2 separate regions of the Homo sapiens genome follow, and region 2 is linked to region 1. The links come from fine-mapping of genetic effects on gene expression. A gene starts in region 1. The other region holds a variant in brackets. All regions are shown on one strand. Distances are from middle to middle. Region 1 holds the start of ZFP1 (ZFP1 zinc finger protein). Region 2 overlaps ZFP1 (ZFP1 zinc finger protein).

Evidence for each region. PIP is the estimated chance that this variant, and not a neighbour inherited with it, causes the effect.
Region 2: its variant is the best candidate, but not a certain one, in a credible set for the expression of ZFP1 in prefrontal cortex (GTEx, PIP 0.52).

The regions. Positions count from the first base shown.
Region 1 is chr16:75,145,489-75,150,869 of GRCh38, reverse strand. It overlaps ZFP1 (ZFP1 zinc finger protein), which reads right to left and starts at 2,346. Exons shown (of 4, transcript NM_153688.4): 1 at 2,227-2,346. RefSeq lists a silencer at 1,756-2,125 and an enhancer at 2,486-2,535.
Region 2 is chr16:75,168,264-75,173,644 of GRCh38, reverse strand. It overlaps ZFP1 (ZFP1 zinc finger protein), which reads right to left. Exons shown (of 4, transcript NM_153688.4): 4 at 1,411-4,392. The coding sequence ends at 3,311. Among named protein-coding and RNA genes, the nearest start is that of ZFP1, 22 kb to the right of the region's middle. The variant G/A (reference allele first, on the strand shown) is at 3,218.

The sequences.
Region 1 (5,381 bases):
TTGGGCAACAGAGACAGACCCTGTCTCAATCAATCAATCAATCAAGGAAGATTCTACGATCAACAGCACAATATTTATTCAAATACACACGAAACAGTTACCCAGAGAGATCATCATATCCTCGACCTTAAAACAAACTACAACAGGCCTGGTGCAGTGGCTCACGCCTGTAAAGCACTTTGGGAGGCCAAGGTCAGCGGATCACTTGAGACCAGGAGTCTACTAAAACAAAATGAAACAAAAATACAATACAAAAACAAACCACAACAAATTTAAAATAATTGAAATTCGTAACACAGTATTCTGACCAAATCAGAATTAAACTATAAATCAATAATATAAAAAGATCTGGGCCGGGTGCGATGGCTCACGCCTGTGATCCCAGCACTTTGCAAGGCCGAGGCAGGTGGATCACCAGGTCAGGAGATAGAGACCATCCTGGCTAACACGGTGAAACCCCGTCTCTACTAAAAATACAAAAAAAAATAAAAAAATTAGCCAGGTGTAGTGGCGGGCGCCTGTAGTCCCAGCTACTCTGGAGGCTGAGGCAGGAGAATGGTGTGAACCTGGTAGGCGGAGCTTGCAGTGAGCCGAGATCTCGCTACTGCACTCCAGACTGGGCAACAGAGCGAGACTCTGTCTCAAAAAAAAAAAAAAAAAGATCTGGAAAATCTCCAAAAACTTGGAAATTATGCAATACAATCTAAATAAATAAGGGTAAAAAATGAAGTCACAAGGGAAGTTAAAAAAATTTGAATTGAATGGTAATGAAAACACAATAAAAAGGCTGGGTGCAGTGGTTCATGCCTGTAATCCCAGCACTTTGGGAAGCCAAGGCGGGAGAATCACTTGAGGTCAAGAGTTCTAGAGCAGCCGGGCCAACATGGTGAAACCCCGTCTCTACTAAAAATACAAAAATCAGCCAGGTGTAGTGGCGGGTGCCTGTAATCCCAGCCAGGAGGACTGCTTGAACCCGGGAGGCAGAGGTTTCAGTGAGCTGAGTGCCACTGCACTCCAGCCTGGGTGACAGAGTGAGACTCAGTCTCAAAAACAACAACAACAGAAAAGAAAATACAAGATATAAAAATTTGAGTGATGTAGTTAAAGTAGTATTTAGAGGAACAGTTACATCAATAAATTGTGTCTGGCCGGACGCGGTGGCTCACGCCTGTAATCCCAGCTACTCGGGAGGCTGAGGCAGAGCACTACTTTAACCCAGGAGGCGGAGGTTGCAGTGAGCCGAGATCAAGCCACTGCACTCCAGCCTGGACGACAGAGCGAGACTCCGTCTCAAAAAAAAAAAAAAAAAAAAGAAAGTAAAGAAAAGAAACGGTACAATACAAAAATATAGTATTACAATCACATAGGACCACCATTTTACATGAGGTCCCTCGTTGACAGAAACACTGTTACGCAGAGCGTGACTGCACCAGAATCATGGGAAAACTTTCGTATTTCAAAGTAGTGAAGAATTTTGGGTGCCCCAAACGGAAAGAACAGTAAATTCCACCCGAGAGAAATTTAAAACGTCAAAACGTATACATGGCAAAATCTACCAGCGAGTAAAATCAAAAGATAAATGAAAAAATATCTGCTGCTCACATAAAGTACCACCGGGTTGTGAGACCTTAGGGAAATCACTTTCCCCTTCTGAACCTCCCGTGTTCCTGGGATAGCGACGGAGATGATAACGCTGGAAGTCACGGGGTGGATGCGAGGATCAGGGGAACACCTCACTGAAGACCCTCTGACAAAGGGATCACGGTTCTCCTTCACCACCGGCAACTGACCAGGCTCCAGTCCTTCCTCCACCCACGAGGCACCGGGCATCGGGGCGTGGCCAGGTGTGTCAGGCCACGCCCCCACCACGCCCCGGCGGGGCCTCGTCCCGCGCGCGCGCGCCCGCCGGGGCTCCAGAACTCGCTCCCGCGCGGCCCGAGCCCTTCGCCGCCCGTCTGAGGCGCATCTCCTGACAAAGAGAAGAAGGCGAAGCCTCATAGCCGCCCTTCCCTCCGCCGTCCCCGCCCCCGCACGTTCGGCCAGGCGTGCCCCGCCGGCCCCGTTCAGAGGCGAGCGCCGGGCAACCCCGGACGCCGCCCTGAGGGTCACTGCCGCCTACGAGTAGCCGAAGTTTGGGCTCCCACCCTGCGCGGGCACGAGCCCATCCCTCATCTCCTTCCCCTCGGCCCCAGGCCGCGCGGAGCTACCTGGAAGCCCCTCTCGTACCTGGAGGGGCGCAGCCTCCACTCGTGGCCCAGTGCCACAGCGGGTCACGGCGCAGGGCGGCGAAGACGCGCGGAGACGGGGGCTCTGTCACCCACTCGCCGCTGGTGGTGGGGGAAGGGCGGCCACCGGCGCGCTCGCAGCACTGCACATGCGCAGAAACAGGGGCGCGGGCCGTTCCCAGGGTCCTCGGAGGGGTGGACCATCCACGTTCGGGACTACATTTCCCACAAGCCTCCGGGGCCGCGGCTTTAGGGACTCTCAGGAAAGTCTTCGCCTTGTTAGGCGGTCTGATGAGCCGACCAAAATAATCTCCTTAGCCTGCACTGTTTTCTTTTTTCCCAGAGTGGGTCGTGAACTACAATTCACCACCTCCCCCTTAAATACAACAACTTGGCTTTTAAACATTACACAAATAATCTATAACTGTATTTAATTAGAATATATGTACAAAATAAAGTATCCATAATCTCACTTTCTAAAGATTAACTGCGTATAACATTAAGTTCGCACTTTGATTTTTTTGTTGTTGTTACAAAACTGGCCATAAAGGTATCATGTGCTGCAACTAGCTTTTTTCCCTTTTTTCCCAGGCCACTTTGTTGAGGTATATATATTTGTTGAGATCTATATATTTAAGATGTACAACTTGATATCTACATTTGTGAAATATTCACCATAATCAAGCTAATTAACATGTGCATCACCTCACATAGTTATTTGTCTGATGAGAACACTTAAGATCTATCTTCTTAGCAAATTTCAAGTACACAATATTGTCAACTATCGTCACATAGCTGTGCATCTCCCCAGAACTACTCATCTTGCATAACTGAGACTTTGTACCCCTTGACCACCATCTTCCCATTTCCCTTCACCCTCAGTTCCTTTCATCCTTTAGAACAGTTTTAGGTTCACAGCAAAATTTGAGCAGAAAATACATTGAATTCCCATATAACCCATGTCCCCCCAGCACACACAACCTCCCCAAAGTTGATATCCCACACCAGAACAGTGTATTTGTTACAATTGGTGAACCTACAGTTAAATATCAGCACCTGGCCAGGCTCAGTGGCTCACACCTGTAATCCTAGCACTTTGGGAGCCTGAGGCAAGCAGATTGCTTGAGCCGAGGAATTTGAAACCAGCCTGGCCAAAATGGTGAAACCTCATCTCTTAAAAAAAAAAAAAAAATACAAAAATTAGCCGGGCATGGTGGCACGCACCTGTAGTCCCAGCTACTCGGGAGGCTGAGGTGGGAGGATCACTTGAGCCTGGGAGGCTGAGGTTTCAGTGAGCCAAGATTGTGCCACTGCACTCCAGCTTGGGTGACCCTGTCTCAAAAAGTATAAATTAAAAAACAAAATCATTGGCACCCAAAGTCCATAGCTTACATTAGTGTTCACTTGATGTTGTACATTCTATGGGTCTTGACAAATGCCTGTAACCATTACAGTATCGTACAGAATAGTTTCACTGCCCCCCAAAAAATCATCTGTGCTCCATTTATTCATCCATCCCACAACCCCTGGAAATCTCTGATATTTTTACTGTCTCCATAGTTTTGCCTTTTGCAGGTTGTCATATAGGTGGAATCATACATATGTTGCTTTTTCAGATTGGCTTCTTTCATTTAGTAATATACATTTAAGTTTCCCTCATGTTTCCCTCAAGTTACCCTGGCTTTTTTTTTTTTTTTTTTTTTTTGACACAGGGTCTCACTCTGTCACCCAGGTTGGAGTGCAGTGGTGCGATCATGGCTCACTGCAGCCTCCACTTCCTGGGCTCAAGTGACCCTCCCAGTTCAGCCTCCCAAGTAGCTAAAACTACAGGCATACACAGCCATGCCTGGGTAATTTTTTGTATTTTTTGTAGAGATGGCATTTTGCCATGTTGCCCAGGCTCGTCTCAAACTCCTGGGATCAAGAAATCCTCCTGCCTTGGCCTCCCAAAGTGCGGGGATTATAGGGATGAGCCACTGTGCCCAGCCTCAGTTCGTTTTAGTGCTGCATAATATTCTACTGTCTGCATGTACCAGTGTTTTAAATCCATTCACCTACTGAAGATACATTGGTTGCTTCTAAGTTTTGGCAACTATGAATAAAGCTGCTCTAAACATCTGTGTTCAGGTTTTGTGAGGATATAAGTTTCCAGTTCATTTGGGTAAATCGTATGGTTGCGGCCGGGTGCAGTGGCTCACGCCTGTAATCCCAGCACTTTGGGAGGCCGAGGCGGGCGGATCACGAGGTCAGGAGATCGAGACCATCCTGGCTAACACAGCGAAACCCTGTCTCTAATAAAAATACAAAAATAAAAATTAGCCGGGCGTGGTGGCGGGCACCTGTAGCCTCGGCTACTTGGGAGGCTGAGCCAGGAGAATGGCGTGAACCTGGGAGGCGGAGCTTGCAGTGAGCCGAGATTGCACCAATGAACTCCAGCCTGGGCGACAGAGCGAGACCCCGTCTCCAAAAAAAAAAAAAAAAATTAGCATGGTTGCTGGATTGTGTGGTAACAGTATGTTAATGAGACAGGAGAGTTCCCTGGACCCCTTCGCGGGACTTGTCGTGGCTAGCTTACTCAGCCACTGTGCTAAAACCCCTTATGGGAGGGGGAGCACAGAGGCAAGTGGGTGCCAGGGCCAGGGTGAGCACCTTTGGGCTCTGGCCCCATGGTAGCATCTAGGGGTGTGTTACAATTAATGCTCTTCTAGCAGTTGCCATCCATGGACAGCTAAGCGTTAACCAGCTCAGTGGAGAGTGAGGGTGACAGCCTTTTACACCCTGCCCTCTTAATACCCAGGTCCTTGTCCAGCATCCAGAAAGGATCAGGTCACATGGACTTGAAGAATGGTAAATGCAGAGGTTTTATTGAGTGAGGGAGGTGGCTCTCAGCAGGATGGGGAGCTGGAAAGGGGATGGCGTGGGAAGATAATCGTCCCCTGGAGTTCTGCTGTCCCTGGCCAAATTCCTCTCTGACCATCCAGCTACCTCTTCAATGCTCAATTGCTTCTTCTCTTTTCTCCTTCTCCACCACCTTGCTCTGCAGCTCTGCCCCTCTGCCCCTCTGCTGCTCTTCTGTTTGTGGAGCCTGGGATTTGGGGTTCTTATGGGCACAGGATAGAGAGCAGGGTGGGCCACAATGGTCTTGGAAAAGGCAAC
Region 2 (5,381 bases), 23 kb before region 1:
TTTGTTACAGGCTGTTTTCAGGATGAATAGCCTTAGATAGGTAATCCGTTCTCCAGAGCAACAGTTTGTTTAGCATCCAGTATAATATGTCTTCCTTCTAGACAAAGGTTTGATAGATTTACTTCTAGACCACTGTTTAAGATTCAGGCTCCCTAAACTTGGACCTCCCCTCCTGTAACTCCACCCAGCAAATGTGTATTCGAGGTCAGTACAGTATGTCTTCTGCCAGTATCCATGAAACTGGTAGCTTAACTTGTTACCTTGCAAGTAGGACAAAATCTCAGACTTTTCAGTCCTTAACACTTGGCCCCTTATTCACAGCTCCTGTTTCCAAGTTTATCTTGAATCCTCCTAGATTTACCCTGACCACTCCTTTATAACTGTTTTTTTCAAAATGACCTCACTGATGGTTAATCTCAGCATATATCCAACTTCATACAAATTATTAGTATTTGATATAGTGGCCACTCTTCTACTTCAAAATAAGTGTTTTCAGCTGGCTTCAGATACCACCCTCTACTGGTTTTCACCCTAACCCTGGTGGTTCCTTCTCAGTTTCATTTGCCAGTTCCTGCCCAGCAAACACTGGGGTGAGTGCTCGGGGCTCAGTCCTTGACATTCTTTATACTTTTTTTTCCTAGGTAATCTCACCTAGCTTTATGGCTTAAAATATTATCCCTGTGACAACTCCCAAATTTTTATTTCCTCTGAAATTGGGCTTCAGAGTCAGTCATCTTACCTCTAAACGCATAAGAGGCATGAGACAAACAGTTGCCACTTGGAATGACCATAGGGGAAGAAGGGTCCTTCTGGGAAAGCCTCATTACAGTCGGACCAGCAAGGCTGAAACTGAGATGGGAGATTTGCTGATTGTGCTGTTTCCCCTCCTGGTCCATCCTCCATCTTTCTACCCTGCTTTATCCCAGGAGGACGGCATCACCCGGGCTTCTGATTAGGTTCAGTTGATGGAGGCATCTTCAGGAGACAGCAATAAAGAGCTGAGGCTTTTCCCCCTCTGCTCCCTTTCCTGACAGTTCTGTGTTTCTCACAGTAGCTGCATCTTTGTAGAGCTTCAACATCCACTTAAGAGACACTCTTCCTTTTTATTTTTCTATCTCCTACAGGAAAGAGACCTTCCAACATTTTGGCTCTCACTGGGCTCTGAAACACCATTTCTTCCTTTGGTCCCTAGGGAGACAACAGCTTCTTGGCACTGCTGGTCTCTGGATTCCTTACCATCCGTTGTTTGTTCCCTTAATCCTTCTCTCATTCTCCAAGTCATCCTTTCATAAGGCGCTAATTCAGTTTACTGCTAAAGCCCTCACTGATAAAGCTGGTGAGGTCCACAGGTTAAAAATGGAAGGAATTCTATTCACCAGGCCCATAAAATCATATACAAAGACACACATATATAAGGGTTTATCTTTATTTTATAAAAACTGCTACACACACACATACACTCTCTCTCTCCCCTCTTGCTTTCCTCATTTGACCTAGAGAAGTTTGGAGTTTGTTCCCACACATTCTTTTCAAGGAAATACCATTCAGCCATGGTATGTTTTTACCACAATTTATTCATCCATTCCCTTACTGATGGTCTTTTTTTTGTTTGTTTTTTTGGTCCTTACCAAAAAATACAATATACATTAGTAAACATATAATCTTAAGTGCTGGCGCTTTTTATTCCTTAGGGATAGATTCCCAGGAGATTCCTAGGTTGTAAGAGTATATTAATGTTAAAACAGACTCACAATGTTGTCCAAGGAGGCTGTTACAATTTACATTTCTAAAAGCAGCTATGAAAATAACGTTTTCCCCTCCTTTGTGAGTAAGTAAGATGACAACTTAGACAAAAGCTTATTGGGCTATGGATGTTCTGGATAAATTTGTTCAGAAAGTCACTCAATATATAGTGTGACAGCACATCAATGATATCCAAAAATATTTTTTAAAAGCCAGTTTTTGGTTGCCATTTATAATTTCCAATACATGATTTGTGATTGATAGGGAAAGGCTGAACTTAAGAATTTGAAATCAAGTCTATAAAAGCAAATCTTTGAGTTACACAACAATTCTTGTTAATATCTGGAGAGACCACTGAAAAATCTGATTTTTATAAAAGTGTAAACATGTAAAGGAAAAGTAATAACTTATAACTCATGTTCCAAAGGGAAATGTTTTAGGTTGGCAACAGCAAAACTCAAGGAAGTAGAAATGCCTCCTTTAAACAACAAAATAGTGTAAAAATTTACTTCTAAAGGGGGTTATGCACGTGAAAAATTTAAAAAGCAATGAAACAGTTGACAGTTATTTAAAATAATTTTTCCTCTAAAGTCTCTGAAATGTAACATTTGTGAACTACAGAAGCATCCTACCATTTTTGCTAGACAATTCATGAAATATTAAGGGAAACAAGGAAAGACAAAAACAGGTGGTTTCTGTCTGTGTTACACAATATTTTGGTAACAGACATGCATTTGTATGCAAATATCCCACGGGAAAATAAGAGCATGACGAATGGGGATATTGTCTTTACACGGCAAACTCTTATTCTGTGGTGCATACTGAGTAGTACAGCTCATGTCTGCCTCCTTCACGTTATAGATCGGTTATTTCACATTTGCATATTTGTGTAAATAGTGCTTCTAGAAAATCTTCAGCAAACCAGAAGCAGGGAAAACTTCAACACTGTCTTCTGTTTCCTAAGAGGCAGCTCAAGAACAATGTTCATACCAACTGATATATGCCAGCAAGCAGTAGGGAAAGACGTAGGTTCCATGCTACTTTAAATGTTACACATTTCATTTGGAATGCATACTGGATTGCAGAGATACTGAAAAACACATGTGATGTTTAGTATGGAAAATCTTGTTATGTCCTAATTATCACAGAGGACAAGAATTTCAAATTCCCAGTGATTATGCTAAATTCACATGTGCAGATCTAAAGCATACCACTTGTGTTTTGTGGCATATCCACATAAAACCACTAAATTCATAGGATACTGTTTGTATATTTCTTATGCTGCTGTCTAGAATACTCAATTCATTCAAGATTTTAAAAAGCTCATTGTAGTACAACTGGGTATGGCTATTTACAACTGGATATATTCTGATATGTATTCTTTAGCTGGGTATCACATGTAACTTCCAGTATAATGTTCTCATGGGATCCTATTTTTAATACATTTTTGAGTTGAGAGATTGCATCTCAGTAT[G/A]AATTCCCATGTTCCCTCAATACTGTCATGAGGTTTTTCACCCGCTTGAAGAGTTCTGGCAGGAGTTTTCCACAGTAAGACCTGGCTGGAGTTTCAGGGTTTCTCCCCGATGTGAACTCTCTGATGGACACTGAGTCGGGACTTCCTGCTAAAGGCCTTCCCACATTCGGAACACTCATATGGTTTCTCTCCTGTGTGGATTCGCAAGTGTAATCTAAGAGTTGACCTCTGGCTGAAAGTTTTGCCGCACTCAGTACATTCATAGGGTTTCTCTCCTGTATGAGTTCTCATGTGTATGATGAGCTGTGAGTTCTGGATAAAGGATTTTCCACATTCACTGCACTCATAGCGTTTCTCCCCCGTGTGAATCTTCTGATGTATGATAAGGTTTGACTTCTTAAAGAAGGTTTTTGCACATTCGTTACACTCATAGGGTCGCTCTCCTGTATGAATTCTCTGGTGTGTGGTGAGTTCAAACTTTTGGGCAAATGTCTTTCCACATTCACTGCACTCATAGGGCTTCTTCTCCATATGTGCTCTCTGGTGTACAATGAGGTTTGACTGGTGGGTGAAAGCTTTTCCACATTCCGGACACTCGAAAGGTTTCTCCCCAGTGTGAATTCTCTGATGTTTGATGAGGTTGGCCTTATGGGAGAAGGTTTTCTTACATACATTGCATTCATATGGCTTTTCTCCAGTATGTATTCTCTTATGACTAATGAGGAGTGACTTAAAGGAGAAAGCCTTGTCACAGTAAGTACAAATGAAAGGTTGAACCAAGTTTTTTATTTTCTGATGTTTAAAAATGGCTGCTTTATGGCTGAGGGCTTTTCCACTTTTATTGTATTCAGAATATTCTACTCCACTGTGGGTTTTCTCTTGCTTCAGGTAGAGAAGTGCTTTTCCAAATTCATTACACTCATCAGTCTGCTTTCCTGCATAGCTTCTATTACTATTAAGCAAGTCTGAATTATATTTCAAAGTTTTTTCATATAAGTCATATTTATAAGGTACTTGTCTTAAAGAAACAAAGTCTGTGTTCAGATTAAGTGCTTTTCCAAAGAGATCGCCTCTTTCCTCAATTGGGGTTTGGTTCTTAAGAATTAAAAATTGCCTCGCCTGCTCGTCTGGGTTTCTGTGGTCTCTCTCCATCTGGTCATCAGCCTTCCACACTTCTAGGAATAGAGAGCACAATGAAAAGAACCTTGTCAATGCCTCCGCTATAATGTTACCGAATGGGAAGTCTTCACACGTGTTCTATCACAGGGCTGACTCTTTAGTTTGGGACCCAGTCTCCCAATATTAAAAAATTCCCAGTGCAAATGTTTCCTTTCAAACTTTGAAAGAGAAAGGTAATAGCTTGTGGTTAAAAAAACAAAACAAAACCAAAATCAATACAAGTAGCATTGCCAGATCACAAAATGACCTTAAAGTGGGCAGAGAGGGTGAAAGGAGACAGAAAACAGAACACAATATGAGAAGGCTGGCAATGCCAGGGAGGGAGATTCACAGTGTTCTTAAGGACACTGCAGTTAGCACAGAGACCGAGAAAGTAAGCAGATGAGGGAATTAAGGGGAAACACCTAAGCAGATCTCGACTAATAGTATTATTTGCTAAACTCGGACTACTATGGTAGAACCAGCACCAGTCTGCATAGTTCTAAGCTTTTTCTCCTTTTTTTCTACTGTTCATCTTTACCAAAATGATTTCCAGAGAACAGCACTTCTCATAGGTTTGCAGTGACAACCAGATAGCAGAGCTCCAAATCTCTTAAGTGAGAATCTTGCAAATGGTAAAATCCAGAAACTCATTCGCTAAGAGATACACAACCCTTACCACAGGATCACTAACTGCTGCTGGTTTTATTGCTTTTTTTTTTCTACTGAAGTTGCTGGGAGAGTGAACATGTTTTCACTATCATATCCTACTTTTCTTCCATTCCTATTTAGAGATAGGGTCTCCCTCATTTGCCCAGGCTGGAGTGCAGTGGCACAATCATAGCTCACTGCAGCCTTGACCTCCTGGGCTCAAGGGATACTCTCAATATTCCAGGCATGAGCCACCATGCCCAGCCTACTTCTTTCAATGTGTTCAGCATCTTAAGGATAAAGTTACCCAGGTTCATTAAGTCAAACAACAGATACTGGCAAGGCTAAGATACAC